3 separate regions of the Homo sapiens genome follow, and regions 1 and 2 are each linked to region 3. The links come from fine-mapping of genetic effects on gene expression. A gene starts in region 3. Each other region holds a variant in brackets. All regions are shown on one strand. Distances are between the middles of the regions.

The links. PIP is the estimated chance that this variant, and not a neighbour inherited with it, causes the effect.
Region 1: its variant is the best candidate, but not a certain one, in a credible set for the expression of RHBDD1 in whole blood (TOPMed, PIP 0.69).
Region 2: its variant is the best candidate, but not a certain one, in a credible set for the expression of RHBDD1 in whole blood (INTERVAL, PIP 0.68).

The regions. Positions count from the first base shown.
Region 1 is chr2:226,861,324-226,871,653 of GRCh38, forward strand. RHBDD1 (rhomboid domain containing 1) reads left to right here. Exons shown (of 9, transcript NM_001167608.3): 4 at 3,281-3,803; 5 at 5,863-5,995. The coding sequence starts at 3,371. Among named protein-coding and RNA genes, the nearest start is that of RHBDD1, 30 kb to the left of the region's middle. The variant C/T (reference allele first, on the strand shown) is at 6,227.
Region 2 is chr2:226,890,826-226,901,155 of GRCh38, forward strand. All of the region lies in intron 5 of RHBDD1 (rhomboid domain containing 1), which reads left to right. Among named protein-coding and RNA genes, the nearest start is that of RHBDD1, 60 kb to the left of the region's middle. The variant G/A (reference allele first, on the strand shown) is at 5,715.
Region 3 is chr2:226,830,209-226,840,538 of GRCh38, forward strand. RHBDD1 (rhomboid domain containing 1) reads left to right here and starts at 5,846. Exons shown (of 9, transcript NM_001167608.3): 1 at 5,846-5,879; 2 at 7,865-7,946; 3 at 9,201-9,419. RefSeq lists enhancers at 5,165-5,459, 5,299-5,368, 6,209-6,358 and a silencer at 5,629-6,158.

The DNA.
Region 1 (10,330 bases), 31 kb after region 3:
CCACAGAAGCAGGAGCAGTCAACAGTGGAGAGCTGGGAGGTGCGAAGGGATGCAGACAGAAAGACACCTTTTCATCCAGCCAGAAGTAACTCAGGAAAGTGCAATCAGAGCCTGGGACACAGTGTGAAGTAAGACTGGGAATTCTGTCCTTTTATCTATATTCTTCATTACTAATGATTGTAATTGAGGGGCAAGTTTTTCTTGAGCAAAGATGTAGTTAGTTTTGATTTTCTGCTACATAAAGCCCAGCATCATAAGACACTGTTGGCAATGATATTGAAGGGTTTATTTTGTGATTTCTTGTAAGCTGATTATTTACTGATCAATGATCAAGGCCAGTTTTTCCATTGTTCCTGTTAAAGGTAATAATGTTTGATATATGTAACATAAATATTTCTGTGTGTGTGTGTGGGCACACGTGTGCACACATATTGATAAATTTAGGAGAATTACAAAAAAGTTACGGTAGGTAAAGAGTTGAAAGTTGACTTGAGTTCTAATGTGAAAAATATAGGCCATTTATCCAAAGTTATGTGGGAGCATTTCAGTTTAAATTTCATTAAATTCTCTAGTTCATAAGAATGCTACAGAGCTACAATAATAACAATATAGAAACGGGTTGTGCTAATACATGGGGTTTTGCCAATAATGTGTGTGTGCATGCACGTGTATGTATATGGCTAATTTTGTGTGTGTATGCATACACATATATATATACACATGCATAATTTTTTTCTGAACATTGTTTTGGTGTGATGTTGATAATAAGAATCCATATGGGGGCATAGGAGTACATTTGAGTCTTTTTAGGATGTTACCATTTGCAAAGGAATTAATTCTCACATAAGTAAGTTTACTTTATAGAAATGAAAGTAGTAGCTACTGTTTATTCTGCATCTCTTTTGTTCCAAGCATGTCACAGTAATCCTGGGAAGGAGGTTTTATGTTTCTTAAAGGGAGGAAATTGAAGTTCAGAAAGTTTAAATGATTTGCCCCAGGTCACAGAGCTAGAAGATAGGAGAATCCTGCCTTTTTTTTTTTTTTTTTTAACTCTAAAACTCATGCATTGTCCAGTGTGCAGTCCAAGTTAGAATCCTTAGGGTATTAGAGTGAGTTACCTGTTTGGTTGGGGGCCAATTAATCTCCACAGAGAAAGCAGAAACCATTAGATGAGAACTTTTTCAACATTTTGCCCCTAATAGCTACACCTGATTTTTCTTTTCTTTCTGTTAAGAGGAAAAGACTCTTCCCTCCAAGCACTTGATCCTTTTTATTTATCTCTTGCATCTTTAGTCTGTGTCTCTGCCTGCATCTCTTCCCTTACTAGCTTCTTCTCATGAGCATGAAACAGTCCCTCCCTGGCTTAGTCCGTTTAGGGTTGCTATAAATACCTGAGTCTGAGTAATTTATAAAGAAAAGAGGTCTATTTAGCTCACAGTTCTACTGGCTGTAAAGTTCAAGATTGAGCATCTGGTGGGGGCCTCAGGCCATTTCCATTTGCGGTGAAAGGTGAAGGGGAGCTAGCATGTGCAGAGATCATGTGATGAGAGAGGAAGCAAGGGAGTGGGGAGGTGCCAGTCTCTTTTAACAACCAGCACTGGCAGGAACTAATAAGAGTGAGAACTCACTCATCCCCTGACCCCAGGGAGGGCATTCATCTTTTCATGAGGGATATTCCCCCATGACCCAAACACCTCCCATTAGGCTCTACTTCCAATACTGGGGATCGGATTTCAACATGAGGCCGGGCCTAGTGGCTCATGCCTGTAATCCCAGCACTTTGGGAGGCTGAGGCAGACGGATCACCTGAGGTCAGGAGTTTGAGACCAGCCTGACCAACACGGTGACACCTAGTCTCTACTAAAAATAGCCAGGCATGGTGACACATGCCTGTAATCCCAGCTACTCAGGAGGCTGAGGCATAAGAATCATTTGCACCCAGGAGGTGGAGGTGGCAGTGAGCCAAGATCATGCCATTGCACTCCAGCCTGGGCTACAGAGTGAGATTCTGGCTCTAAATAAATAAATACATTCATTCATTCATTCAACATGAGGTTTTGGAGGGACAAACACCTAAACCACAGCACTCGCGAAAGGCAATACCTTCTGTATTAGTTAGTAGTTGTTGCATAACAAACCACTCCAAAGCTCAGTGAAGTAAACCAAGTACCATTTATTTAGCTCACTGTTTTGTGGGTCAGCAAATTAGGCTGGGCTCAGCGAGACTCACTTGTATACCTGTGGTCAGCTAGACAGCTTCACCTCTGGAGTAGTAGCTGACCAGTGGCAAGGACCTTCAGGGTGACTGGAGTGTGTGCCTCTCTTTCATTACCCAGCAGGCTGGCCTAAAGTTTTCACATGTTGTTTGAGAGGGTTTCAAGAGAGAGAAGCCTATAAATCATCTTGAGGTATAGGCTGGGAGCTTATGTAGTATCCCTTCCTCCACATTCTGTTAGCCAAAGCATGTCACAGTGCCAGCCCAGGTCCAGCGGGGTGGAGAAGCGGGCTAGTAAGCCATGGAACTTCTCATTGTCAACCCCAAATCACCCTTGAAGACCATAGTCAGATCACCACCTCAGGCTGTGTTGTGTGCCTGTGCTCTGGGTTCCCTCTCTCACTGCATTTAGAACATTATGTGGCCACTGTTGGTTTATTTCTTGGTGGAAAGTGAGCCTCTTAAAAACAAGGACTGTGTTTCAACCCAGGATTTGGCTTGTAGAGTAGGTAACGAAAAGCTGAAGTTGTTATGAAAGTAGAGTTCAGACCACTGATATCTGGCAGTGTGGAAATTGGGATTAAAGATAATGTATGCTCGTGTCTTAAAACTTGCTTGTTGATGTTTAAAAACTTTGGAGCAAACTCATTCTAACATATCAAAATCAAATATTTCTTTGAAAAAAATGGAGGGGATAAAGAATCCTGGCCAGGATTCTGAGTAGAAATCATTTAATACTTGCACACTATCTTTGTAGGTTTTTCATGAGGTTACATGTTTGTTTGGGAAGTGAAGTTAATTTCGTGGTGTGTTTGTCAGAGAAAAACATACCTGTCCATTAACTGATTCATTGGGATTTGGGATAACATTTCTATTCTAGAATGTAAAATGAAGGAAGGGTGTCAGTCAGCATCCTCGATATTACTCTTGAAGATGTCGAACATAAATATTTCTGTTAGAATGAGAAGTAGCATTTGCCTCATGGGAGTTTGTCTTGAAGCGAGTATGTCTTATATATGTACTAATTCTTAATTGATGGTTTTTCACATGCATTTTGTGTTTTAGGTTCAGCCGTCTGTATATCTCCCCAGATACCTGAAACTGACCACCTGAGTACGTTTTCCCATTGCTGAGCTGTTTCCCTGATATCTGGCCATGCAACGGAGATCAAGAGGGATAAATACTGGACTTATTCTACTCCTTTCTCAAATCTTCCATGTTGGGATCAACAATATTCCACCTGTCACCCTAGCAACTTTGGCCCTCAACATCTGGTTCTTCTTGAACCCTCAGAAGCCACTGTATAGCTCCTGCCTTAGTGTGGAGAAGTGTTACCAGCAAAAAGACTGGCAGCGTTTACTGCTCTCTCCCCTTCACCATGCTGATGATTGGCATTTGTATTTCAATATGGCATCCATGCTCTGGAAAGGAATAAATCTAGAAAGAAGACTGGGAAGTAGATGGTTTGCCTATGTTATCACCGCATTTTCTGTACTTACTGGAGTGGTATACCTGCTCTTGCAATTTGCTGTTGCCGAATTTATGGATGAACCTGACTTCAAAAGGAGCTGTGCTGTAGGTTTCTCAGGTAAGGGAGACAAAATTTTGAGGTTGCATGCATAAAGGAAGCAAGGGAGGTGTGGCTGCTGTCATTTTATGAAGTGTGGGTCCCTATCAAATTCTGAGTGGTTAAGGGCTGCTGAGGCTTTGCGTCTTGAAGAGGAGGCTGGAGCATGCAGGGACTAGTTTTTGCCATTCTACATTATGCTGCATTATTCACTCTTAGTCTGCACTAGGACCTGCTGGAAGGTGGTTTTGTAGAAGACATAGTATTGGAAATATGCACCAGCTCCTTATGGTAGGGTCACAGAAAGACCCACAGATGTATTTGTAATAGGGAGTTCTCAAAAAAGATGACTGTGCTTGTGAAGTAGGCTCAGTGTGCTGTCTCTGATTACCAACTTGTCTGCACCTGGTGAGACAGAGCACACTCATCTGCAACAAGTTACATGAGGCAGATTTAGTATTTACAGTTAGGCAGCAAGGGAAAACAGGAGCCTAGGATTCATCGTGAGCCCATCTTCAAGGCTCAAAAAGCTGCCTAGGGCTGTTGGAGTCTTCACTGTGTGTGTTCCTTGCATGCAAATAAGGAACCCCAAAGAGGCAGCCAGGTACAAACCTAGGAATCACATGAATCACTGGGCAAAGCTTTGAAAGACATCCTATTCGGGAGAGGATTAGGCTGTTTCAGCCAGCCCCCTTTTATCTCAGGGTGTTGGATTTCCAGCACATTTCCATAGTTATTCTTGAGAACTACAAGCGAGAAAGGAGGGGGAGAACTACATAGGTCCAAGGCCACCTGGAGAACTGTCCTGCGATGCCTCTGGATGACTTCGTTAATAAATGGACCACACCCTGCTATGGCATGCTGGCCATGTTTTAGGAGCCATGATAATCACTCTGCATAACCTAACCAATTTAATTTATGCAGCAGATCCACATGGAGATGGGATTATCTTTATTTTATTTTATTATTTATTTATTTTTTTTGAGACGGAGTCTCGCTCTGGCACCAGGCCTGAAGGGCAGTGGCGTGATCTCGGCTCACTGCAACCTCCGCCTCCCAGGTTCAAGCGATTCTCCTGCCACAGCCTCCCGAGTAGCTGGGACTACAAGGCACGCACCACCATGCCCAGCTAATTTTTGTATTTTTAGTACAGATGGGGTTTCACCATGCTGGCCAGGATGGTCTCTATCTCTTGACCTTGTGATTCACCCACCTTGGCCTCCCAAAGTGCTGGGATTACAGGCGTGAGCCACTGTGCCCGGCCTTGATTTTATTTTACTTTTTTTATTTGTAGTTTTTTTTCTGACCACCTGCTGACTGTTGAGGGATTGTCTTGATTTTATAGATGAGGAAGCCAAGACCCAGAGAAGTGAGGTTACTAGCACAAGGTTACCCAGCTCGGAAGCGATGGAGCTGGGACTTGAGCCCAGTCTACAGATTAGCTGTGTGATGCATTGTCTCTCACTTTCTTCCTCACTAGTTCCTTTTTACAGATATTTCATGGGACCAAAATTGCCAGCAGGATTTAAATTAGGCGTTCTAAATATTAGAATGTGAAGGGGAGGAGAGAGGTAGTCCTGAAACAAGGAAATCTAATCCTTCCTTCTGCTTTTCCTGACATCCTTCCCCTTTCCTTCCAAGATGTATCCTTATGCATCTAATTGTGGGAGAAGAAAGAATATATGCCCTGTCTTCAACATGTTTTTCCATAGAGGTTAGAAAAATACATATTACTGGTATTTTTATTGAGTTAAAATTTATATAGCATAACTATTTTGTAGTGCACAGTTCACTGGCGTTTAATACTAATAATAGTATTTTATTCACATGGTAGGTATTATGTATTTAGTAGCATACTGAACACCAATATGAACTTCTATATTTAGAAACATCAAAGGAGTGACTGCCTTTAACGTTGTCTTTTTACCAAATGCAAGGTTGTAAGGAATAGGGTATGTTTTAAAGCACAAAGTTGGATGTAATCGAATAATCATTTTCACTTTTAATTAACTTTCTTTGTAAATGTTGATACTCCTACTTTTGGATTGTTGATATTTGCATGTTCTTCATTCTCTTTTAGGAGTTTTGTTTGCTTTGAAAGTTCTTAACAACCATTATTGCCCTGGAGGCTTTGTCAACATTTTGGGCTTTCCTGTACCGAACAGATTTGCTTGTTGGGTCGAACTTGTGGCTATTCATTTATTCTCACCAGGGTAAGTGTTTTCTTTTGGGGAATACAGTTGAAGGACCTGATGTTCTGTGGAGAAAAAAATTGCAATAATAATGAGGTAACCAATTGTTTTTCACAGTGAGGTTTATTCTTTATCTATTAGGACAGAATCAAGCTTAATAGTTTTAATGTCAGATATTTCTGGGTTTGAATCTTTTCAACTATTAAGCTGTATAATTTTGGGTCACTTGTCTTAACTGAGTTGCAGATTCCT[C/T]ATTTTTTTTAAGTAGGAGAACCTGCTATACTGATCTGAGGATCAATATTAACCAGCCAATCAGCTGGTTAATTCTGAAAGCAAGATTCCAAAGAAGCACATAGAAACCACGTAACTATAAAGATTAAAAAGCTATAAGGTATGTTGATCTAATGCTTTTTATTATTATTATTATTCTTTTTTTTTTGAGATGGAGTCTCGCTCTGTTACCCAGGTTGGAGTGCAGTGGCGTGATCTCAGCTCACTGCAACCTCCACCCCCTGGGTTCAAGCAATTCTCCTGCCTCAGCCTCCCAAGTAGCTGGGATTACAGGCGTGTGCCACCACACCTGGCTAATTTTTATATTTTTAGTAGAGTTGGGGTTTCACCATGTTGGCCAGGATGGTCTCGATCTCTTGACCTTGTGATCTGCCGGCCTTGGCCTCCCAAAGTGCTGGGATTACAGGCATGAGCCACCGCACCCGGCCGATCTAATGCTTTTAAGCCATTTTAGCTGTCAATTGTCTTGGTAGTAGAACTTTTTAAACAAAAGGCTTTACTTAACACTCAAAATGTGAAATGGATCAGCTCTGAAGTCTTTTGGGTTGAGAAGTGGAATGGGGCCCCTTTCACCTTACTCCCATGTTGCTGTGGCTTCCTCAGAGGAGGCACCTCCACAAAACCCTAGAGCTCCAGGAAGTACAGTTTCAGAACTGCTGATTTAGATGAATTTTTTCCCTTACAGAGAAGGACTTGGAAATTCGGAAGGTTAAGAGACTTATCAACAAACAGTTTGTGGTAGACACCAGCCTTGTGAGGATTCAGGCCCCCTGACTCCTGTCTGGGGCTCCTGCCCATTCATGCTGCACTTTCTTCCTTTGGTTCTTTTCTCTGCTTTTTGTTTAGAAAAAGGAAGATAAGTTGTGTTATTTTTTCCACCTCTTCCACCAGCTTCACTTTCCTTAATCTGTCTTGTGCAACTGGAAATGCATAATGTTTGTTTTTACTGTGGGACTGGACGTTGGCAAAGGGTGAGATTCAGGAAGGTTCAGAAAGAAGGAAGATTTCTATTTGCTACTGTTCTTTACAGACAGTTTTTATTTTGGTTTTGATTTGTGTGACTGTGCTGGGTGTCTTACCTTATTTGAGAGTATTCTCATGGGGCTGTGTGTCAGCCCGGTAACTCCAGGTCCTTCTTTAATGCTAATTTCCCATCACGGGCAGCCACTGGCAGCTGGCCCATAAATGACAGTGACGTGGCCCCTGAGTACCACTCATTTACAATTGTATTGCTACTTTTGACAGTTCCACGAAGAAAGCCTAACAAAATCTTCAAAGTTTTCTTTGAGAAAGCATCCGGTAATGTCTGTCCCTTATCTGAACAGCCCTCTCTATACCTTGTCACTCACTGCTCCCCTGACTTGCTTGATGTGACTTGGTTCTCTGTGTCAATGATAGGCTCTTGTATGTGACTGGCAACACCCACATTCATATGAAAATCACTCCCTCTGCTATTTGAACTTTCATCCTGTGATGAATCCATTGAATAACAGTGCGTTTAATATTCTTATGCAACTATTTCTGAAGTGCTTTTTATGCATTTCATTTTTTAGGGTTCCCCCCAACTTACATGGAAAAGGGATGGTTGCATTTCTGTGTCATATGCATATTCTTTGTGGAGGCACCGGTAATTCTGAGCTTGGGAAGTAAATGAAATTTCCTGTCTTTGAACTTAAAGTCTTTTGATTTTTAAGATTTGACTGCTTTGAATGATAAACTTCTAATATACAAGCATCTACTTACACATGTATCCAAATAAAGACTACGCTAAACACTGGCCCAGGAAACCTAAGCAGTGAATGCTTCTTTGAGATGGATCTCGGAAGAATGGCTGAAACTAGAGCTCTCTTTGCAATGCATTGTTATTTGCTTGATGGTTGTCAATTAGAATTTTCATTGGGAAAACACTGTAAATCTTTAGAACAAAGCTTGCTTTATTGCAGGACTGTATGGGCTGCCCTTCGGGAGGAAAAAAAATCTGCCAAAGCAAACATTTGGTGGACCTCTGTGTTTTATGAAAGCCACGGAATTAGTAATTTCCCCCAGTTACAGAGTTTTATGAAGGAAAGCCACCCCAAATAGGCATCGTGAGGAGTATGAGGCATGTGGACTTGATGCCAGAGTGAAGCAATCTCCCTCATTCACGTGGTGCTTTTGCTTCTCACAGTGTCTGTGTGTACTTACTTCAGAGGTTGCTCTGCTTCACATCCGGCTTTCCATTTTCCTTCGTGTCCTGAGACCCTGATAGGTGATAGTGTCTGAAGGGGTGTCCCAGGAGGGAGATGTGCAGGCCACCTCTGGTGCCTCCTTCCTAGACCAGGCTTCTGTCCCTTCCCACCTCCTACCCCCACCAAGATTCTGTTGATGGGAGGAAGGGGGATATGTTGCCTGGTTTTACCTTCTAGCGAGATTATGAACCTCTGTGTGTTCTCGTCTGAGCCTTAGGCTATCTAGACAGAAAACCAAAGTGGAGAATCATGAACATCACCCAGAGTAAGACAGCCACTCAGCGACTATACTAGAGGAGAGCGGTTGAATGTGACAGGGCCGGGCTCACATACTGGCCGTGGGACCTCGGGCAAGGTACACAGCCTCTCTGAGCCTCATTTTCCTCACCTGTGTAATGGGCTATTACTTACCTTCTCTGTTTGATAAGTCAGTTTTAAGGTGTCATATGCGAATGAGCTCTTTGTAAACAATAGGAAGTACTCAACCCTTTTATTATGAAATAAATCACTGGATGTGTACACTGTTCCTAAATAGAATCATACCTAATTTCTTTTGCTTTCTAAAATTAATAAATCAGCTGTTATTTAATTTTGTTTGTTTGACTTCCACTCCCTACTTCCCTTTGCTCCTACTTGACTTTTTTCGTCCTGAATGACAGCAGTCTAAAAATGCCCATAAGCCACTCTTAAACACTAAATAAGCAAGCCTTGGCTGCATTTGGACCCTGGGGTATTACAGTTGACCCCTGAACAACTTGGGGGTTAGGGATGCTGCGCCCCCATGTAGTTGAAAATTCATATATAATTTTTGACACCCCAAAGACTTAACTATCAATAGCCTACTATTGACTGAAAGCCTTACTAATAACATACACAGTCAGGTAACACACATTGTGCATGTTATATGTATCATATACTGTATTGTTACAGTAAGCTAGAGAAAATAAAATGTTATTAAGATCATCATAAAGAAGAGAAAATGTATGCACTATTTGTTAAGTGGAAGTGGATCATTATAAAGGTCTTTATCCTCATCATCTTCACATTGAGGAGGAGGAGGAGGAGAATAGGGGGAGGAGTTGGTCTTATTGTCTCATGGGTAGCAGAGGTGGAAGAAGATCCTCATGTAAGTGGACCTGCATAGTTCAAACCCATGTTGTTCAAGGATCCACTGTATTTGGTAAAATATGACAGCTGAAAGCATTACCCCCTAGGCTTTGGATACTGCTTCATTGCTAATATTTGACAAGAATAAAATTACTTTGACCCAACTAAAAATTATTTGGCTAGATTGATCAAATGAGAGAAAAAATATATTTTTTACTTGTTTCAATTTTTTATTATACAGATTTTCAATTATTTTTCAATTTAAATTTTATTTTCAATTTATTTTTCCACTTGTTTCAATTTTCTGTTTTCAAAAATATTTATAAATTTATAAATTTTCAAACATAAAGAAATGTTGATGCACCATTTGACAGTAAGTTGTAAACATAATAACTTCACCCCTAAAAACTTCAGCAGGCATCTGTTAAACAGAAAAATATAATTTTACAAAACCACATTACTGTTGTCATGCAAAAGAAAATTAACAGTAATTCCTTAATGTTGTTTAGTAATTGGTTCATGTTCAGATTCTCCTAGTGTTCAAAATGTCTTTAATAACTGTTGTGGCCAAAGGAGAACCAGGATCCAAAATTCATATATTGCCTTTGATTATTGTATTTATTTATTCTTGTATTCTAAGACGGTCTTCCCACCTTTTTACTTTTCCATGAAGTTGACATTTTAAAGATATCAGATCTCTCGTTTTATAGAATATCCCACACTCTAGACT
Region 2 (10,330 bases), 61 kb after region 3:
TTTTTTTAAAAAGTAAAAAACCCAGCTCAAGCAAACCTGATCAAAGAAAAGGACACTATTAAAATTTCTAATGGTGTACTTTAAGGTTCCAGGAGCTTCAGATATGATGAAACTCAGATTCTTACTGTCATTAGGATTCTGTTTCTCCCTCCTGGCTCTATCTCACTAACCACCCACCCCCAACGCCTGTTTTGGCTTTTGTATTAGTTATCTATTGCTATGTAACAAATGATCTCAAATCCAGTAGCTTAAAACAACCACATTTACTATCCCACAGTGTTTAATAGGTCAGGAGTCTAGGTATGGCTTATCTGGGTCCTTGGTTTCGGGCTCTCTCAAGACTGCAACAAAGGTGTCAGTACAGAAATCTCATATGAAGGCTTGACTGGGGAAGGCTCCAATGCCAGCTCCTGTGGTTGTGGGAGGAATTCAATTCCTTCTGTGTTGTTGGACTAAGAGCCTCACTGTTGGCTGGAGGCTGCCCTCAGTTCGTTGCCACTTGACTCTCTCCCTAAGGCAGCTCACAATGTGGTACCTTCCTTCAGCAAAGAAGAGTCTGCTAGTGAGGCAGAAATTACAGTCTTATGTAATATTAATAGCATAATCATAGAAGTGACTTGTATTCTGTTGATTAGAAACAATTCACAGGTTCCACCTATGCTCATTGGCAGAGGGGTTATCCAAGGAGTGAATACCCAGGAATCAGGGATCACCAGGGGTCATCTGAAAGTCTGTCTGCCCAGTTTCATTCTCAGAAGAGTTCTCTCCACATGGTGACAGAGCTGACATCAGCAGCTCCTACATCCTAATGCTAGCAATCCTAGAGAAAATGCAGCTACTGTCTCCCTGGCATTTGTATAAGTATCTGTACCCAACCAATAGAATTCTTGGTTGGAAACCCTAGAAATAAACTCTGGCAAACTGAACCATAAAAAGACTTATCGGAAGGATATCAGATAGCTTCTAATATTTTTGAGAATACTGAAGACCTGGGCTGGAAGAACCTGTAAGAACTGGCAGGATGCTTGTTGCCATTGGTCAGTGCTTCACTGGACTGTCATCACTAGACTTTGTATTAGATACAAAGGGTATCTGATTGGCCAGTGCAGGTCGCATGCCTGTGCTCTGGCTGCCAGGAAGCTGAGGGACTATCTGCACCTCTTGAGCCTCCACTGGAGGTGGGGCTGTGTTTCTTTGACTGTGACACTGTGCTGAGATGAGCCCATAGGGGTCACCTGGCTTCACTAGGGTGACTTTTGTTCACAAATGTTCAGCCTAGCAGCTTGTATTGCATAAGCAGATTCAGCTCAAATGGGCAGATTTTAGAACTTTCTAGCTAGCATTTCTATGCTGTTTGTTTAACATTAACTGTGCCTTACAGACATACCAGTAAAGCTGCTACAGAGTAGTATGTGATGTTGATGGCATGTTAAGGTCTCTGAGTCATGTAGTAGATGGGGCATGTCTGTTTTTCATAGTCAGAATTTTTATTCATACCAGATTTAACCACAAGCAGAATTTACTTTTTCTGAAATTATGGGCTAACTTTGCAATGCAGTTTTTGTCCTAATCTTGATGTTGGCTCTAGGAATTCAGGGATTATCTTAACTTTTTACTTTCATCATCTTTGGCCATGTGCATATGACTTTTTGTACATGCGATACACTGACTTGAGGTATCAGGTTTTTATAAGTACAAAGAACTTGTGAATCTTTTGAAATAAGTTCATGTTTCCTTGCATGCATTTTCAAAGCTATACTTAATTCTTATGCAGCATTGCAGTAGAATAGAATAAGTAAGACCAACTTACCAAGAAGGGAAACAGATGCCACTTCTATGGGGTAATTTGTGAGGTGTAGTCTTGCCTACTCTCGAAATGTTTTTCTTATTGGCCCAATATGGCAACTGAAATCTCACCATTAGAACTCAAATTTTGGGTGAAGATCAATGCATCTCAACCTGAACACGTTGGAATTTCCTGGGGAATTAAAAACAACATTTCAAAAAAATCACTAAACAGAAAAAAAAACCAATGTCAGGACCTTACCCCAGAGCAACGTTGCGTAATTTCTGGGAGTAGGGCCCAAGGAGCAGTAAATTGTAAAACTTCTTTAAGGGATTCTAAAGTGCAGCCAGGATTGAGAACCAGCAGATCAAGAGTAGAACCTGGGAAGGGCAGTGCATTCATTCATGTTATGATGTGTACAAGGAAATACAGTAGACAGCATTTCCACAGTTCCAGTTGAGACTATTTCCTGCCATCTTTTCTTCTTCATGTGTCTGTATGATGAACTTCCTTTAACAAAGATCAATAAGTCAGAGAGTCCATCTACCATAGGGCCATGGAATTTCTAGCTATGGCATTGCTTGTGAAAATACCTCCAAAAGACTGAACTCATGGGAATATCTATTTGCTTCATACCAGTAGCACATGTTAAAATCAGGCTATAAACAGTCGAACTTCTCTTTCATTTTATATTTACTTTCTGGAGATATTGTGCAAATGATCATTGATGTGGTATCCAGAAATATTTTTGTCTATAGTAATAGCAGATGGCAGAGCATTTTTCATGTGCCAAGTCGCATTTATTCTGCTACAGTACAATGTGGAAGTGATCATGGCCTCTTTCAAATATTCAACTCCCCATGTGCATTTCAGTTGTGGTGGGAACTTTTATTGCGTATCAGTTCAATATGTTATAGATTGACTTGGAATCCTTGGAATTTTTGCATAGTATAGTCACATGAGAAGTACTTTGAAAAGAAATAGTTTCGAAGCCTCATGATTAAAAGTCATCAATTCAGCAAACATTTAATAAGCATATTTTGTGTGCTAAGCCAGTGGTTTTCCACTGGGATGGGTGGCTTTGTCCCCAGGAGGGATTTTGGAAATTTGCAGGGTTGTTCTTAGTAATCCTAATGATTAGCAGGGGTGCTACTGGCATTTGGGGTGCAGGGGCCAAAGGTACTAGCTGTCTCACAGCTTACAGGACAGACCTCCACGATAAAAATAGTCCTCTACACACAGCACTACTGACCCCCAGTCTGTCGAAAGGACATTCTTGTAAATGAAAAACCTGTTTGTGGTTATCTGAGCCTAAAACCTAAGTGTGCTTTTCAAATAAAGAGCAGTTTTTGGGGGGACATGGATTTAACATACAGTGACTTTTCCAGGAAAATTATATTAATAAATTAAATTGTAAATGTAAAGTGAGGGAAAGTTGTACTTTGCTTTATTTGGAATTAAGAGTTTTTTAACCTCACGTAAACTCACATTACCCACGGAACCTTGAATGTGGTACTTGAGTCACAAAAAGCCTGCATCTGTAACCACCTGCATTCGTTATTCCCATATTTATGAGGATTCCACACAGAGGTGCAAGCTAAGGGCTACTTTATATGTCTCCTGCTGGTGGTGTGCCTGAGCATTTGTAATTCATATTATTTTTATTTTTATTTTTTGAGACAGAGTCTCACTGTGTTGCCAGGGTTGGAGTACATTGAGATCATCTTAGCTCACAGCAACTTCTGCCTCTTGGGCTCAAGTGATTCTCCTGCCTCAGCTTCCCAAGTAGCTGAGATTTACAGGCGTGCACCACCACACATGGCAAATTTTTGTATTTTTAGTAGAGATGGGGTTTCACCATGTTGGCCAGGCTGGTCTCGATCTCCTGATGTCAAGTGATCTGCCTGCCTCGGCCTCCCAAAGTGCTTGGATTGCAGGCGTGAGCCACTGCACCCAGCCTATAATTCATAATATTTTATTTTATTACTTTTTATTCTTATTTTTTAGCTAGGATATTATGTTGACTTGTGATTGTGTGTTTGTATATGTGTCTGTGTACACAAAGTGTACAAGATGTGTTATTCACAAATTTTATTTCAAGAAGGAACATTACAAAATATTTAGGCTATAAGGTGGTATTGGGTGTGATTGGGTTGAAAGTCACCGGATTAAGTAGCAGGGTGATGTCAGACAAATCAATGGACAGGGAAACTTTAGCATGCTAGAGGAGCACAGAGGCCACTGCAGTATCCAGAGGAGCAGCCTCTGCCAAGTCCTGAGGGAGTGTGGTCACACTGGCCCGGGATGATCAGGAGCTGGGGGACATGGAGGGCAAAAGGAATGGCACATACAAAGTCCTGAAGGGTGGATGCTTAGCGTTGGTGAGTGGCTAGAGCCCAGGGTGTGGTAGGGCTGAGCCCTGGCAGAAGGGAGAGAGAAGGCTGGAGAGGCAGACAGAAGTCCATGAAGAGCCTAACAAATCTTGCTTGCATTTTATTGTAGAGACACTGGGGAGCTACCAAAGGGCTTCTGGGCTAGGATCAGGTTTGCTGGTTAGACAGACACGCTTGTCACAGTGGTGAAAATGGGCTAGATGAGGGCACGGTTACATGAGCCAGGGTGAAGCCTGAGCTAGGCAACCATGGGGTAGACTGCTGGGCTAACACCTTTGCAGGCCATGTGAACCTTTCTGAGCTCTCCTGCTGCCTAGCAGCAGTCAGCCCTGCAGTCTCACCCCAGTAGCTGTGCTCCTGACCACTTTTCTAAGAGGTTGGGGTGTGGGTGGGAAGGGGTGTTGCAGAGAAGATGGAGAGGATTGTGGTCGGTGGGAGCTACTCAGCATGGAATATAGAAGATACAGGGTAGGGAACTCTAGGATGTGTCTGGTTACATGAAGTGTCTGAGGAAAAGAACACTAACCTCACAGAATCTCACTGACTCTTTAACCTCTGTGCCCAATTAAGGGAGTCGGGGGAGATTCTTGTCCAGTTATTTTGTGTGATTTCACTTACCTTTGCTTTTATTTAATTTAGGACAACCTGCCATTTTGTTCTGAAGATTTGAATAGCAACACAGATCCTAAAGAAGCTTAGTAATACTGCAAAGCTAATGATTATGACTTTCATCCAGAGCACTATTTAGAAACACTTGCCTGTGCCAAATGGAGGAAGGTGTTCTTAACAACTCACCCCAGCAACAGCAAAACTATTTAGGCTTATCCACCACATTGATGAGAGAAGTACTGTTCTTAAAATGAGAGCCTTGCTCGGTGTCTTTTCCCTTTGCATTTAAAAATAAATGAAATTACTGAAACACTATTATAAGAAGTTTGGAAAATAAGAGGGATGTTACCTTCCCCACATATTATCTATTAATATTTTTTATGTATTTCCTTTAAATCTTGTTTTTAGATATGTTTATGTATATTTGTGTGTCTGCATAATATGTTATATGTATAAATATGTAACATTATAACTGTATACAATTATTCTAGGAATCAACACATGAAATATGGGAGCAACATTTTGAATCATTCTTCCCTCTCAGCTTCCAACTTGCGACCTAGTTACCTTCTGATTAGATGTCTCTATTTTGTTGTCTCATAGGCCTCTCAAAGCAAAGAAAACAACTGAGTTCTTGCATTGTCTCTCACCCTAGCCTTTCCTTTTCCCAATCTTCTGCATCTCAGTAAATGCTTCCACTATCCATTTAGTTGCACAAGCCAGAAGCCTAGATTTCTTCCTTTCCCTCACCCTCTACACTGAGTCCATCAGCAAGTCCTTTTATCTCTGCCTCCAAAATACATCCCAGATCTATCTATTACCCTTCCCTGGAATAGAAGCAGTCCTATCAAGATCTGTTGTAGTAGTATTAATATTTCTGTAATCCACTGCCACCACCTCCTTCCAAGCTGCCATCATCTTTTACC[G/A]GGACTACATTATTCTCCTTACCTGTCTTCTGCTTAATTTGGCCATTCTTACTTCTCTAGGGTCTGTTCTCTCAGCAGGTGGAATAGATCACTCCTAAAAATGCTCCTGTTTGGAATCCTCCAGTGGCCTTCCATTGTACTTAGAAAACAACTCAAGTTCTTTACTATGGCACATAAGGCACATGGCACACAGGCCTTATGTACCGTGAGTTTCTAAATCCGTGCAGCACCCTGTGCCCATATTTCTTGCTTACTATTAGTTATCTCAAAAATTTTTTTTTTGAGGCAGAGTCCCCACTATCACCCAGGCTGGAGTATAGTGGCACCATCTCGGCTCACTACAACCTCTGTCCCCGGGGTTCAAGTGATTCTCCTGCCTCAGCTTCCCAAGTAGCTGGGACAACAGGCACGTGCCACCATGCCTGGCTAATCTTTGTATTTTCAGTAGAGATGGGGTTTCACCATGTTGACCAGGCTGGTCTCGAACTCCTGACCTCAGGTAATCCACCTGCCTCGGCCTCCCAAATGCTAGGTTTACAGGTGTGAGCCATCGTGCCTGGCCATCTGAATGTTTTAAAATACCAAATTCTTCCTGCCTCAAGCTGCTACATATGTGCTTGTAGCTGCCTGAATCTTCCATTCCCACTTCTGAGCATGCTAGCTCCAGATCCTGCAGTGCCACTTAAATGACACCTCCTTGAGAAGCCATCCCAGACAGTTCTGGGTAAAGTAGACTTGCTTTCTTACACTTAACAGTTTGAGGTGTGTGTGTCTGTCTGTCTGTCTGTCTGTCTGTCTGTCCATCTGTCTCCTCCACTCTAGATTTTAAGCTCCAGGAGGTAAGGACCTTGTTTGTCTTGTTAGTGTAATAGTCACTAAATATTTGATGAGTGAATGAATGAATATGTCTTAGTCCATTTAGTGTTGCTATAAAAAAATACCTGAATCTGGGTAATTTATAAAGAGAAGAGGTTTATTTAGCTCACAGTTCTACCAGCTGGAAAGTTCAAAACTGAGCCTCTGCTGAAGGCCTCAGGCTACTTCCACTCATGGTGGAAGGTGAAGGGGAACCAGTTTGTGCAAAGACCACATGGCGAGAGAGGAAGAAGTAAGACAGGCAGTGCCATGCTTTCTTTAAGAACCAGCTCTGGGCCGGGTGTGGTGGCTCATGCCTTTAATCCCAGCGCTTTGGGAGGCCGAGGCGGGTGGATCACTGAGGTCAGGAGTTCGAGACCAGCCTGACCAACATGGCGAAACCCTGTCTCTACTAAAAAAACAAACAAACAAAAATTAGCTGGGTGTGTTGGCATGCACCTGCAATCTCAGTTACTCGGGAGGCTGAGGCAGGAGAATCACTTGAACCCAGGAGGTAGAGGTTGCAATGAGCCGAGATTGCGCCATTGTACTCCAGCCTAGGCAACAAGAGCAAAACTCCGTCTCAAAAAACAAAACAACAACAACAACAACAAAACAAACAAAAACCAGCCCTGGCGGGAACTATTAAAAGTGAGATCTCATTCACCCGCAAGGGAGGACATTAATCTATTCATGAGAGATCTGCCCTCATGACCCAGTCACCTCCCATTAGGCCCTACCTCCCTATACTCCTACAAGGAGGATTAAATTTCATCATGAGTTTTGGAGGGGACAAACCTCAAAGCCATGGCAGAATGCGACCTACTTGAACCAGCTCAGGGAATTGTCTTATTAGCAGGCGTAGGGACATGGAATTGAGAGCCAAGGAATTGCTAAACATTGTCTGTTATCTTGGAAGCTCTTTTGTAAAAGAGGCTTCTGCTATTGCAATACCCTTGTTTTTGTCCAGATTCTTTTTGTCTGGACCTCAAGTAAATGTCAGTGGTCAGCTTCTATCCCCGTGTCTGCAGTTGGTGCCATGTTTAATAAATCATCATGGATTGTAGAGGGTGCGTTGTCAGTATAGCTGCCTTTGGGGCACATAATATTGGAAGATGGCTAGGTTTTACTTCTGAGGACAAAGGTGCAGGGAGCAAGGGATGCATGGTAGAGAGCATGTAGACCAGGTCATTCAATCATGCTGGTATCATGGTTGAAGGAGGCATCAAGGACAGAAAACAAGAAGTTTAAAAACAGTTTCTGTTAAGAAGAAGCAATCCTGTCAGAATCTTTCCTAGTGGCCTTAGTGTTCAAAAACCTGAAAAATTTGTATTACATCTCATTGCTAGTACTGCGAATCTGGGACCATTTATTAAGATCCCCAAACCCCAGAGCTTCTGATCAGTGCAGCCCCTACCTGCTATTAACTGCTTTTACAGGAAGAAATCGTGGAGAGTACAATAGGCCACTTCTAGCTGACTGCCTCTTACCTTACCTTGTTCCTTTACCTTGTCCAACACTGTGTCTCCAAGTTGCGTCCTTAATGAGGTCATTTGCTCTGCATACATTGTGAGATTATGTCTTAGAGTATTACATTTTCTGCTTTCTGAGCTATGCTTGAGAGGACAACCTCTTCAACTGTGGAAAGAATTTGCCATTTAATAGAGGAGGGCCTTTATAGCTTGTCACAGCTTTCAGTCACAGATCCAGTTTTTGATTCTGTCACAGTGGCACATGAGAGCAGGAACATTTTGCATAACCACTTAACTCAGCGTTACAATAGCCTCTTAAATGGATGAGGAGCAGCTTAAGCTGGCTTGATGGGAAAGAACACTGTCTGTTGGTGTTAATAATATTCGTATTTAGTTTGCATAACTTAGATCCACAATAATATCTTAATCTTAGTTTTGCTCCAAAATTGCCTTTCTACTATCACTATCCCATATAAATAATGTATAGCAACATTGATTTGATTGTAACCCTTTCATATTTTATTAAAATTTTTTTCTGTAAACATATATTGAGCACCCCCTCTGTGTCAGGAAATACACAAGTGCTGCATATCTAGAGGTCCACTGGACAAAAAATAATGGGTGAGGATTTTCAGAATTGTAAAAGCACATGAGACCTCATGTTGAAAAACACAGCACATCTTAGCAGGTTAAATAAATCTGCAACTAGCTACAGTGATTGTGGTATAAAGACAGTATGTCCAAAATAAAGAGAAAATCTTTGAAAACTGAAGAAAAAGACAGATTGCCTACAGAGGAATGACTTTCCAACTGACAGTACATTTATTATCAGCAGCAGTAGATCCTATACCTGTCATCAAAATAGGATGCTGAAATAAAAACCTTTTAGGACATACAGAGACTAGGATAATTTTTTACTCTCAAATATTAACTGAAAGAACTATGAAACATTGTATTTTGGCAAGGAGGAAACTGAACCCAGAAATAGGTTGCACCATTACAGAAGCAATGACACAACAAGGAATTTGGACAATAAGTTAATGAACTTGAGTAATCAGAATAAATGGCTTCCTCTGTGCCGCCATGATTTGAGTACTAGCAAGATGTTTTCCAGTTAAATACAGAATTACTTTGGTTTGGTGCTGATGTCTGAAATTCTTGTTTGTGATGAATTATTCACCTCAATCAAGGGTTTTTAAGAAGGGGTCCATGGATGGAGTTCAAGGTATCTATGAACATCCTAAAATTACAGGTAACGCACTTTGTGTATACACAGTTTTTCTGAAGACAGGCTTGTTGGCTCTCATCAGGCGCTTAAAGGTACTTGGAATTTGAATTAGTTTAAGAACTACTGGATTAAGTTATTGTTCCTTATTAAAGTGAAATTACATCAATACTTACCTTGCTCTCAAGTTGAGATACATGATCTGAATTTGAATCGTGACGTTATTGGTTACCTTGCAGAATCACTGTGACCCTGGAAAAATTATTTTTCTTCTCATTGTAGTCTGAGTGTGCATTGTATGATCTGTGTAGCTAAAGGCAGCAGTGGTGTGCCTGGCCCCTGTGACTGTATGTCAGTATCACAGTCAGTATTTGATTATAGTTACGATTTTTCTAAAGAGAGTCACTATTAAGCTAACAGAAGAAATAAAGCTTTTAAGTTACCAATTTTAGGATATAATAATATATTTATTGTTTTGTTAATTGAACATATATTTTGTGTAATACACTGTCCAAGCGTATGTAGTGGGGTGGACAGGGGGAGGCTGTGTTCAGTCATTATCTATACCAGTGAGATTTCCTGCTAAAACAAGTATTAACTGGTGACCATGTGCAACTTGTATTTTCCCCCCAGCTTTATTGAGGCATCACTGACAAATAAATGTTGTATATGTTTAAGGTGTATAATGTGATCTTTTGTTGTACATACACATTGTGGAGTGAGTACCATGACCAAGCTAATTAATATATCTGTTACTTCAAGTAGTTAGCATTTTTGTGTGTATGGTGAGAACACTCAAGATGTACTCTCCTAGTAAATTTCAAGTGTACAATGTAATGTATTATTATTAACTCTACTCACCATGCTGTATATTAGCTCTCTTACTTATTCATCGTATAACTGAAAGTTTGTAGCCTTTGATCAACATCCCCCTATTTCTCCCATCCCTAGTTCCTGGCAACCACTGTTCTACTGTTTCTATGAGTTTGACTTCTTTAGAGTCCACATATGAGTGAGATCATACAGTATTTGTCTTTTTGTATCTGGCTTATTTCATTTAGGAA
Region 3 (10,330 bases):
TGAGGACAAAACTCTCATGAATGAGATCGTGCCCTTATAAGAGACCCCAGAGAGCTAGTTCTCCTTTCCACCATGTAAGGACACAGCAAGAGGGTGCTGTCTATGAGGAAGCAGGCACTCATCAATCTGCCCATGATGCTTTGTCAACTTTCCAGCCTCCAGAACTGAGACATAAATTTCTGTTGCTTACAAGCCACTCGATTTATGGAACTTTTGTTATAGCAGCTCAAACAGACTAAGACAGATGACCATGTGGTTTTTGTCCTCTAGCTTATTAATATGGTGTTTTATATTAATTTTTTGCTAAGAGGGTCTTGCTATGTGGCCTAGTCTGGAGTGCAGTGGCTATTCAAAGATGCAATCATAGCCCACTAGACCCTCAGACTCTTGGGCTCACGTGATCCTCCTGCTTCAGCGTCCTGAGTAGCTGGACCTACAGGTGCATACCACAGTGCCAGATATAAACTTTTTTTTATTTTTCAAGAGATGGGGTCTCCCTTTGTGACTTAGGCTGGACTGCAGTGGCACAATCACAGCTCGCTATTCCTTGAACTACTGAGCTCAAGTGATCCCCCCGCCTCAGCCTCCTGAGTAGCTGGGACTACAGGTGTGTGCCACTGTGCCTGCCTTATTTAATTTGTTGTATAGATAGGATCTCACCATCTTGCCCAAGCTGGTCTCAAATTTCTGGGCTCAAGCACTTTCTTACCTTGGCCTCCCAAAGTGCTGGGATTACGGGTGTGAGCCACTGCACCTGGCCTTTTTTGATGGAAAGCCAAACTTGCATTCATGGTATATGATCTATCCTTCATACATATTGCCATATTTGGTTTGCTAATACTTCATTGGGAATTTTTGTACATTCACAAGGGATGCTGATCTTGTAATGTCTTTGTCTGAATTTGTTATCAGGGTAATAACATCCTCACAGAGTAAGTGGAGAACTGTTCTATTTTCAGAAAGTTTGTGTATGATGGTATAATTTCTTCCTTAAATATTTGATGGATTGACATCAGTGAATCCATCTAGACCTGGGCTTCTCTTTGTGGGAAGATTTTCTTTGTGGAAAGTATTAAATTTCCGTACTTGTTACATGTCTGTTATGGGTTGAACTGTGTCATCCAAAAAGATGTGTTGAAGCCCTAACCCCCAGTACCTTAGAATACGTTATTTCAAAAGAGGGTCATTGCAGATGTAATTCATTAAGATGAGGTCACACTGGAGTAGGCTGGGCACTTCAGCCTCTAGGAGACAGGCACGTGAGGGAACAGCACATGTGGAGATGCAGGCAGAGACTGAAGTGCTGCAGTTGTAAAACCAAGGAGCACCAAGAAAGGCCAAGGATTGCTGAAAACACCAGCAGTGGGAAAGAGACAAGAATTCTCTCTTCCAGGTTTCAGAGGGAGCAGAGCCCTGCCAACACTTTGATCGAGCTTCATGTCTCTAGAACATGAGATAATAAATTTCTGTTGTCTTAAGCCACCTAGTTTATAATACTTTTTTTTTTTTTTACAACCACCATAGAAAATAAAGTCTTTTTGGATTTTCTATTGAGCCAGTTTTGGCAATTTGTGTCTGTCTAGGAATTTGTCCAATTCATCTGCATTGTCTAATTTATTGGCACAACGTTATTTACAGTCTCTTACAATCCTTTTAATTTGGGTTGGTAGTGATGTACCTGTTTTGATTCCTAATTTTGGTCTTTTTAATTTTTTGGCCAGTTTAATGTTGGCTCATTAATTTTACTGGTTTTTTTTTTTTTCTAAAAAACAAACTTTTGATTTTCATTTTCTCTATTTTTGTTACTTATTTTATTGATTTGCAATATGATCATTATTTCCTCCCTTTGCTAAAGGTTTACGTTCCTCCTCTTTTTCTAGTTTTCAAGGTGGAAGTGTAGATTTGAGACTCTTTTTCTTGGTGTTTAAAGGACTAAATACCCTTTTGATCACTGTTTTAGCTGCAGTGCATGACTTCAATATGTTTTCACTTTCATTCATTTCAAAATACTTTCTAATTTCCTTTAGTACTTCTTCCTTGGCCCATGAGTAATCTAATTTCCAAACATCTGGGGATTTTCCAAATTTCTTTCTATTGTCAATCCCTAATTTAATTCCACTGTAACTGGAGAATGTACTTTGTATGATCCCAATTCTTTTAAATTTACTGAGACTTATTTATGGTCTAACATAAGGCTATCCTGGAGAGTATACTTTTTAAAAAGAACATAAATTCAGCTGTCATTAAGTACAGTGGTCTGTACATGTTGGTTAGGTTGAGAGTCTTGTTCAAGCCTTCTATATACTTAGTGATTTTCTGCCTGGTTGTTCTACACATTATTGTGAGTAGGATACTGAAATATCAAACTACTGTTGTTTGTATATTTCTCTGTTCAATTCAATCATTTTTGCTTCATGAATTTAGGGCTCTGTTACTGGGTGCATATACATTTATAACTGTTATATCTTCTCAATGTATTGACCCTCTTATCAGTATGGAATTTCTGTCTCTAAAAATATTTCTTGTCAGCCAGACGCGCTGGCCTGTAATCCCATTTGGGAGGCCGAGACAGGTGGATCACATCAGGTCAGGAGTTTGAGATCAGCCTGGCTGACATGGTGAAACCCCATCTCTACTAAAAAAATACAAAAAATTAGCCAGGCATGGTGGCGGGCACCTGTAATCCCAGCTACTTGGGAAGCTGAGGCAGGAGAATTGCTTGAACCCGGGAGGCAGAGGTTGCAGTGAGCCAAGATTGTGCCATTGCACTTCAAAAAAAAGAAAAAAGAAAAAGAAATTTCTTTCTTAAAGTCTGTTTCATCTGATATTAGTATAGCCACTACAAATCTCTTATGGTTAGTGTCTGCATAGTCTACTGTTAAGTATTGTTGGTATTATTATCACTATGGTACATGAACCAATTTCTCATTTTTACAGTTCTTAAATTGAGATTTGAATTATTTAATTTGCAAGCTTTTCCATAACTAGAAAGCTATAAATTATCTTATCAGTTTTACACATATTTTGGTACAGTTTTGGGTAAAACAGTAATCAATACTTGGTTCATTAAAAGCAATTAGAAACCCAAACAAGCTTCTCCCTTAAAAAGATAATCCAGTTGTGTATTTGTTGCACGCTGTCGTTGCATGGTATTGTTGCCTGACGTCCTCTCACTTTCAGGCTGGGTTCTGAAATCTGAGAATGACACTTGTCTACCTTCCTGCCAGTCCTGGATTTGTGAACTGTACAAGGGTTGTTACCACCACTCCTCCGCTTATGTGCAAGCACCACATCTTAAAAACACTCATTTAAGTCGGGTGGCTTAATCATAGGTATTGCTGCTTTTCCTGTAAACCTTAGATAAAAGTTAAAATTTATTTTATACCATTCAATGTCTCACATATTATGCACAATGTGCATAGTGCTGCCTCGTCTCATGATTAAGATATATACTTTCCAGCATTTAGAAATCATTGTTTTATATGGTAATGTAGTGATTACGTATATTTTAAGTTAAAGAATTTCTTCTGGCACTGATTCTTTGGTATTTTTAAGCCTTGCTCAGTGAAAGGATGCTGCTGCTGATTGCTTCATATGTTCATATTTAAGATATACAATTATTATCCAAGTGATATTTGTCAATTGAAATGGGATATGAGCATGTTACAACATGCTCATTTCAACAGAAACTTTTAAAAAACCCAGTCTGCTCAACAAATCACGTAGGACAAAAGAGAAGGTCATTTTTTAAAAGGTAGATATTTTTTTCTATCTGTTAAATGTCTTTTACCCCTTAAATGTCTATGAAAATTTTCACTGATATTTGAAACAGAACATAATTACCTAAGAATATTCTTAATCCGTATATATTTCTTACATTTTAACGAAATTATTGAATTGAGACTTCTTGATTTGTGGCTCCCTTAAAATCACCTCTGCATTTGATGTATTATACGGACAAGAAAATGATGCAATTATAGAAAGATGTAGAGAGTGATGGAGAATAGAAGATAAGATTAATATTAATTGAATGGATTCATATGATTGTGGTTCAGAAGGATAAATGAGGACTTCTTCCTTTTGAGAAATTACACATTTCCCCCTCTAGGGAAATACAGAAAATACCTCTATAGGCAATTTACTTTTCCCCGCATTCATTTGACTTTTCATGTCCAGAAATGCAGTTTCTCATTGTCAGTTGAGCTTTTGGAGGAGTATATTGTTTTTCTAGGAAAGAGGTAACTTATGAGTCTTAATGAACACGTACAATTTGCTAAGAATCTTCTTTGTCACTTGAAAGTCATATGTACACCCACACCTATGCATGAGCCACATTTTCACTTAAATTTCAAACTCCAAAATAAATATTTCTATGAAGAGTTTTAATACACAATGGCAAAAGATAAACTCTTCTGGTTTAGGCAGTTTTTGTTTTAGCAGACTATCTAAACACAGCTGCTACAACTTCCAATAAACAAAGAGTAACACTAAACCACCTGTATTCGGATACTCGGATTCCTTCTTGGAAAAAGAGCATCTTTACCCTAGCTATCAGAAAATTCCATACCAAATAGTAAGATTTTTTTTTTTTGAGATAGAGTCATGCTCTGTCGCCCAGGCTGGAGTGCATGGACGCGATCTCACTGCAACCTCTGCCTCCCGGGTTCAAGGATTCCCCTGCCTCAGCCTCCCGAGTAGCCGGGATTACAGGCGCCCGCAACCATGCCTGGCTAATTTTTGTATTTTTAGTAGAGACAGGGTTTCGCCATGTTGGCCAGGCTGGTTTTGAATTCCTGACCTCCGGTGATCCGCCCGCCTTAGCCTCCCAAAGTGCTGGGATTACAGGCGTGGGCCACCGCGCCAGGCCTGTTGTTGTTTTTTAAATAGAGACAAGGTCTCACTATGTTGTCCAGGCTGGTCTCAAACTCCTGAGCTCAAGCGATCCTCCTGCCTCGACCTCCCAAAGTGCGGGGATTACAGGCGTGAGTTACCGCGCCCGGCTGTAAGATAGTTTTTTCATATCCTATTAAATATATATAGCATTGCAACATTTAACTTAGCCTAACTCCTACAGCTAAACATAAAACTTGCTCCCGAGTAGCAAACAATTAAAATGGTATCAAATTATGTATTAATCGAAATTCTATTAACTGAAATATGAAACACCTAAAGCCCTCAAAATGGGCAAACGTTGCGTGGTGCAGTCCCAGACCCAAGCTTCTGGGAGTGAAAGGTGCACCCGCGACCTTGCCTTGCTGGCTGGCTCTGGGACTCTGCGATAAGCCGCCCTCCGGTTGTCTGCGATAGCTCCTGAAGCAGGAGAGTGTCTTTCCCACCCTCCGCCTAACAGGCGGTATCTGACCCTTCCAGGCAGCAGCTCCCCAGCCTCCGGCTGCGCTGGGGCCCGGAAGGACGAAGCTTCCCGGCAGAGAACCTGGGCAGAGGCGTCCGTTGGGTAGGCGGCCGCGACCCGCTCGCTGCTTCTCCCCTAGTCTTCGGGTCCCTTGAACGCAGGTCGCTTGTTTGCCTTACGCGTAGTCAGCGGCCAGTGGCTATTTATGGCAGTAAGGAATATTATCCACATTTCACATGGAGCTTAGAGGACAGGGCGAGGGTCCACACTCTCCTTACTGCGCTCTGCCGCGGTCCTGCCCCGCTGTGCCCTCGCGGCCCCCTTAGAGCCACTGCCGGCGCACGCGGTCTGCAGACAGCAGAGCGCGGGCGCGCACAACTAAGCATGCGCCGCGGCCGAGCCGTCCGCTTTAAGGCCCTCCCCTCCCGCACCCGGCCCCAGGAACCCGGGGCGCCCCGGATCGGGAACGTGCGTGATGACGCACGTGCGCGCGAAGACGTGGGGACGCAGGCGGGTCGTAGAGAGCGTGAGTTTCCGCGTCTGTTTGGTCCGGCTGCTGTCGTTGGTTGTGAGCGGCATCTCTCGCCGTTTCCCCGGGCTGCGGGAGCTGGCGGCCGGGCTGGGGCTGCTGGGCGGAGGTCGGCGCCTCCCGGGGGGCTAGGGCGAGGGAGGCATGGCGGGGCTGGAGGCACAGCCTCCCCGTCCGGGGCAAGTCCGAGAGCGGGGAGGGCGTTTCCTGGGGTAACTCCACCTGGGGTCTTGTCGAAGTTGCCGCATCTCCGCCGGACCGCACGGGAACGACGTGCCCACACTCGGAGGAAGGGGTTGGCGCTGAGCGAGTTTAAAGGGTTCCTTTTGAAAGCAGGAAGTTTGAAGTGACGTTGCATCAGCAACAGAGCATGCAGTTTCAGGTGCTCTCGGGACAGCTTTCAGTTTCTCAGAACAAGTCTAAGCCTCACCGCAGTAATAACTTTTATTAGAGGACAAAAAATCCGCCAAAGTAAACCCTTTCTGTCCAACCCCTAAAAACCTTTGGATAAACGTTTACAAGAAACGGATCACAGCCTTATTTGTTTTTCTAAACTGAGCATAAACTCTTTTGAAGACTCAGCGTTACTGTCAAAATGAATGAGTGCCTGCCTAGTTATGATTCAATTATCGAGGTGTTTGGGTCTCTGCAGTACACTCAGTGACTCCCAGGCTTTTCTTTTTTCTCTTTGAAATTGCTTATTAGAAGGCTTTATCTAATTTCTCACAGTTGTGTGTCTTTTTGAGGTAGTTCTAATAAACTTTAAAGGCTTCTGGTTTGCTGCAGGCCTGCCGTCGCTGTGGAAAGCAAGTATTCTTTCAAAGAAGAATAGAAGTGCATTGGTTTCTAAATAATCCCAGGACGCTAGGATCAGCATCACTTGGGAACTTCTTGGAAATGCACATTTTGGGGTCTTATCCCAAACTTACTGAATCAGAAATATATTTTAACAAGCCTTCCAGTTGATACCAATGCACCTGGACGCTAAAGTTTGAGAATTAATGGCGTAGTGATAACACCCATTGTGGAATCACATATAATGGAATTTGAATTGAAGTAATTCCTAGATGGAAAAACTTGGACATGTTACCTCACAGGGCTGGAATATGAAGATGCAAGAAAAATGTTTAACACAAAACACATAGAAAACCCTCAAAGATGTTATTAAGTAACTTATTAGAACTGCATAAAATAAGTACATAGTTTGTGCTGGAAGGATTCTTCAGCGGGGTAGATATGAGCTGTAGCGCATGGATATTGGGACTGCTGCTTAGAGGGTATTTTGTTTACCTCGGGATTCTCAATTCTGTGTAGTCAAGGTTGTTGGATGCAGGATATTCAGTTAAAAGTTAAAGCAGTGCATACTAATGCTATTGTGGTTGTAGGATTTTTAAGAATAGCATTAGTATTTATGTTGAAGAGTAGTTTTTAATTCTTTGGCCTTCTGATCTCTTCAGCTTTGTTTGGAGACAGTCTCTTTCTGCCACCCAGGCTGGAGTGCAATGGTGCAATCTTGGATCACTGTAACCGCTGCCTCCAGGGTTCAAACGATTCTCCTGCCTCAGCTTCCCAGGTAGCTGGGATTACAGGCGTCTGCCACCACGCCCAGCTAATTTTTGTATTTTTAGTAGAGACGGTTTCACCACGTTTGCCAAGCTGGTCCCGAACTCCTGACCTCAGGTAATCCACCTGCCTCGTCTTCAGTTTAGTTATACCTTCTTTGACCCAGAATTTGGTAAAGACCAGAGGTAAGCACTAGTTTTAGAGTTGAGAATTATTGTAACATAGTGACTTGCAAGCGAAAGCCAAGGCTGAATATGTTTCTGTCCTTATCTTTGTTTCCCATATGTCGTACAACTCCACGGTAGCAAAGATCTCATGTCTACTCTAGATACCTCCATTTTCAGGAAGGATCACAGGAGTGCCCTCAACCTGCTGTGTTTTTTAGATGCAGTATTTTCTTACAACTTTATCTCTTTCAGGGGTCCATTGTAGGGGGAGAAAGAAATATTCAGGATTTAAAGCAGCTGCTCTAAAGGCTACATTCACTGCAATGTTGAGAAGGTCAGTGCCAAACCGTGGCCTACACATGTCGTTTTGATGAGAGCACGCTGCTCCCAAGGCTATACCATGGCTCCTGGATATTGAGAGAGTTTTCAGATAAACATAAGTCACTTTGAATGGATTATTCTGGAAATAATTTCGTTAGCTCTGCCACCAAATTGGCACTGCCCCATCATGAAATGTTTATTTTTCGAAGGCATTAAATATTTTTTTTTGTTCTCCTCATCGGAGAGGCAGATCGCTATCTGTGGTTTTAGGTCAGACAAGCCCTGCTCTGAATCTTGCCTCTGCTACTTAGTGATTGTGTACATTAGACAAATTAACATCCTCCCCACTTGAATTTCTGTAAAGTAGGAGTCATAGGATGTGCTACTTCAGGCCATTGAATTAAATGAAATAACGCATAAAACACGTCCACCTTGTTTTAGGCACAGAGGCTCAGTAAATGTTGTGTGTCGGACAAAGGGAAAAAAGGTATTTGTTGTCTCAAACCTAACTTTATGCCATTCATTTTATAATATTTTTATAAATGAGGTAATTTTATTACCTAACTGCACTGCTTTTCTTTTTAACCATAAAATGCTGAAATGGAGTCAAAGCTTTCATATTATTGTGAATGAGAAAAAACAAACACTTGAAAAAAGTTGAAACTTTAACGTGAAAAAACACCATCTTCAGTTTTATCACTGTAACAGAGCAACTTGTAGAAATTGTTTTGGATGTTTACAGCAAGGTAAACATCCAAAGGTCAGGGGATGAGTAATAAAGTATCTTCTGTTAGTTAATGGGGACAGTCAGCTAGAGAAGGGGACACTGTTACAGGAAATGAGACCTCGTTGAAGGTATGCATCAAAGGATGAGAAAATGCTGTTAGCCCTGAAATTGCTAATATTTTTTTAAAACACGAATTCTTAATAGCAAAGTGAAAAGTTTTACATTACATTTTTTAATAAGGGATAACAAAATCTCTTACATGTATTTCTGTGTGTTTATATTGTATATGAATGTATGAGTGCAGAAAATACTTGACTCACACTAGGTCATAATTTTATTTGTCAGTATATTGGAATATGGGGGTGGGGACCAAGTATAAAAGGAAATTTTCTATATATGTAAAATTAGATACGTACATGTATATGTAAATGTTCTTTAAAAAAACTATTAAAAACGGAAGCGATTCTTTAAAAGGTAGATTTCCTTTTATGTTGCAGTCATAGCCACGTAAGCAATGGACCTCATATTTTTTTTCAACAGGGAGCCTCTTAAACAGAATCTTACCTGTAAAACTCAGGAGCCGAGAAGCTTTAAGAACAGTGAGGTTGAAGGGCACAGGCTCTTGGTCCTTGGCAGCGATATTAGGAGGCGTGCCTAGGGAACCTCGGATTCCGGGGAGCTGGACGTGAAACTCTGTGGTGGAATAGAAATCCTCAGGGCATGAGCTATACCTAAAACGTAATGGTATTAAGAATTCTGGTAAGTGGGATTCACAAACTTGTTCTGAAGACAATTTCCAAGGTTGTCAGCCATGTCACCATATGGATGGCTTCTCATGCAGAGGAGTGAGTGATTATTGAGAAAAAAAAAAACCCACCTGACCCGTATTTTACAAAGTAGGATTCTGTGCACTTTTTTGAGGAATTAGCTTTTTAAAAAATCCCTCCAAGTTGTGACAGCTGTATCGCTATTAAAAGCTATTTGGCATTTTAACTGACTGTTGTTTAGGATTACAAATGACTCGGGGAAAAAGAAACAAGGAGTCAAAGGAAGTGTATTACTTGTGTTTATAGCCCTATCATTTTTTTGTTGTATGGAAGCAACTACTCTATATTTATATAGTAAAGTGTTTTTTTAGAGTTAATTTTTAGTTAATAATGAGCCTTCATAAGAAAAATAATTTCAAATGCTAAGTATTTGTTAGATTGTTACTAATAGTGGTAGTTAGTGATATTACATTGTCTTTTTCACACATTGAAGAGGGTTTCCTGGTGACAGCTGGAGCTTGGGGGAGGGGGAGTTACTTTCAATCAACCAGCTGCTTTGTGGCAATATCATGATGGTGATATTTCAAAGCCCATAGATAACTTTGGCTGTTTCAGGAAAGAAAATCTATCAAATTTCTGGGAAGCAACAGATAATGGGCAAGAGACCTTTGGGATCTACGTGATGGCCAACTAACAATGTGTGCATTCCGGTTTGCATGTTGGGGTTATTTACCATCTAGTTTCTTGGACATTGTTACATGCACCTCATAATTACACAGTAATAGAATCTAGCTCTAAGGGCAGGAAAATCTCATTAAGGAGAGGAAAGGAGAGTGAAAAACCTTGGTGATGCACTGCACGCTTTAACATAATACCCTATTTCATTTATTCTTGATGGTGATT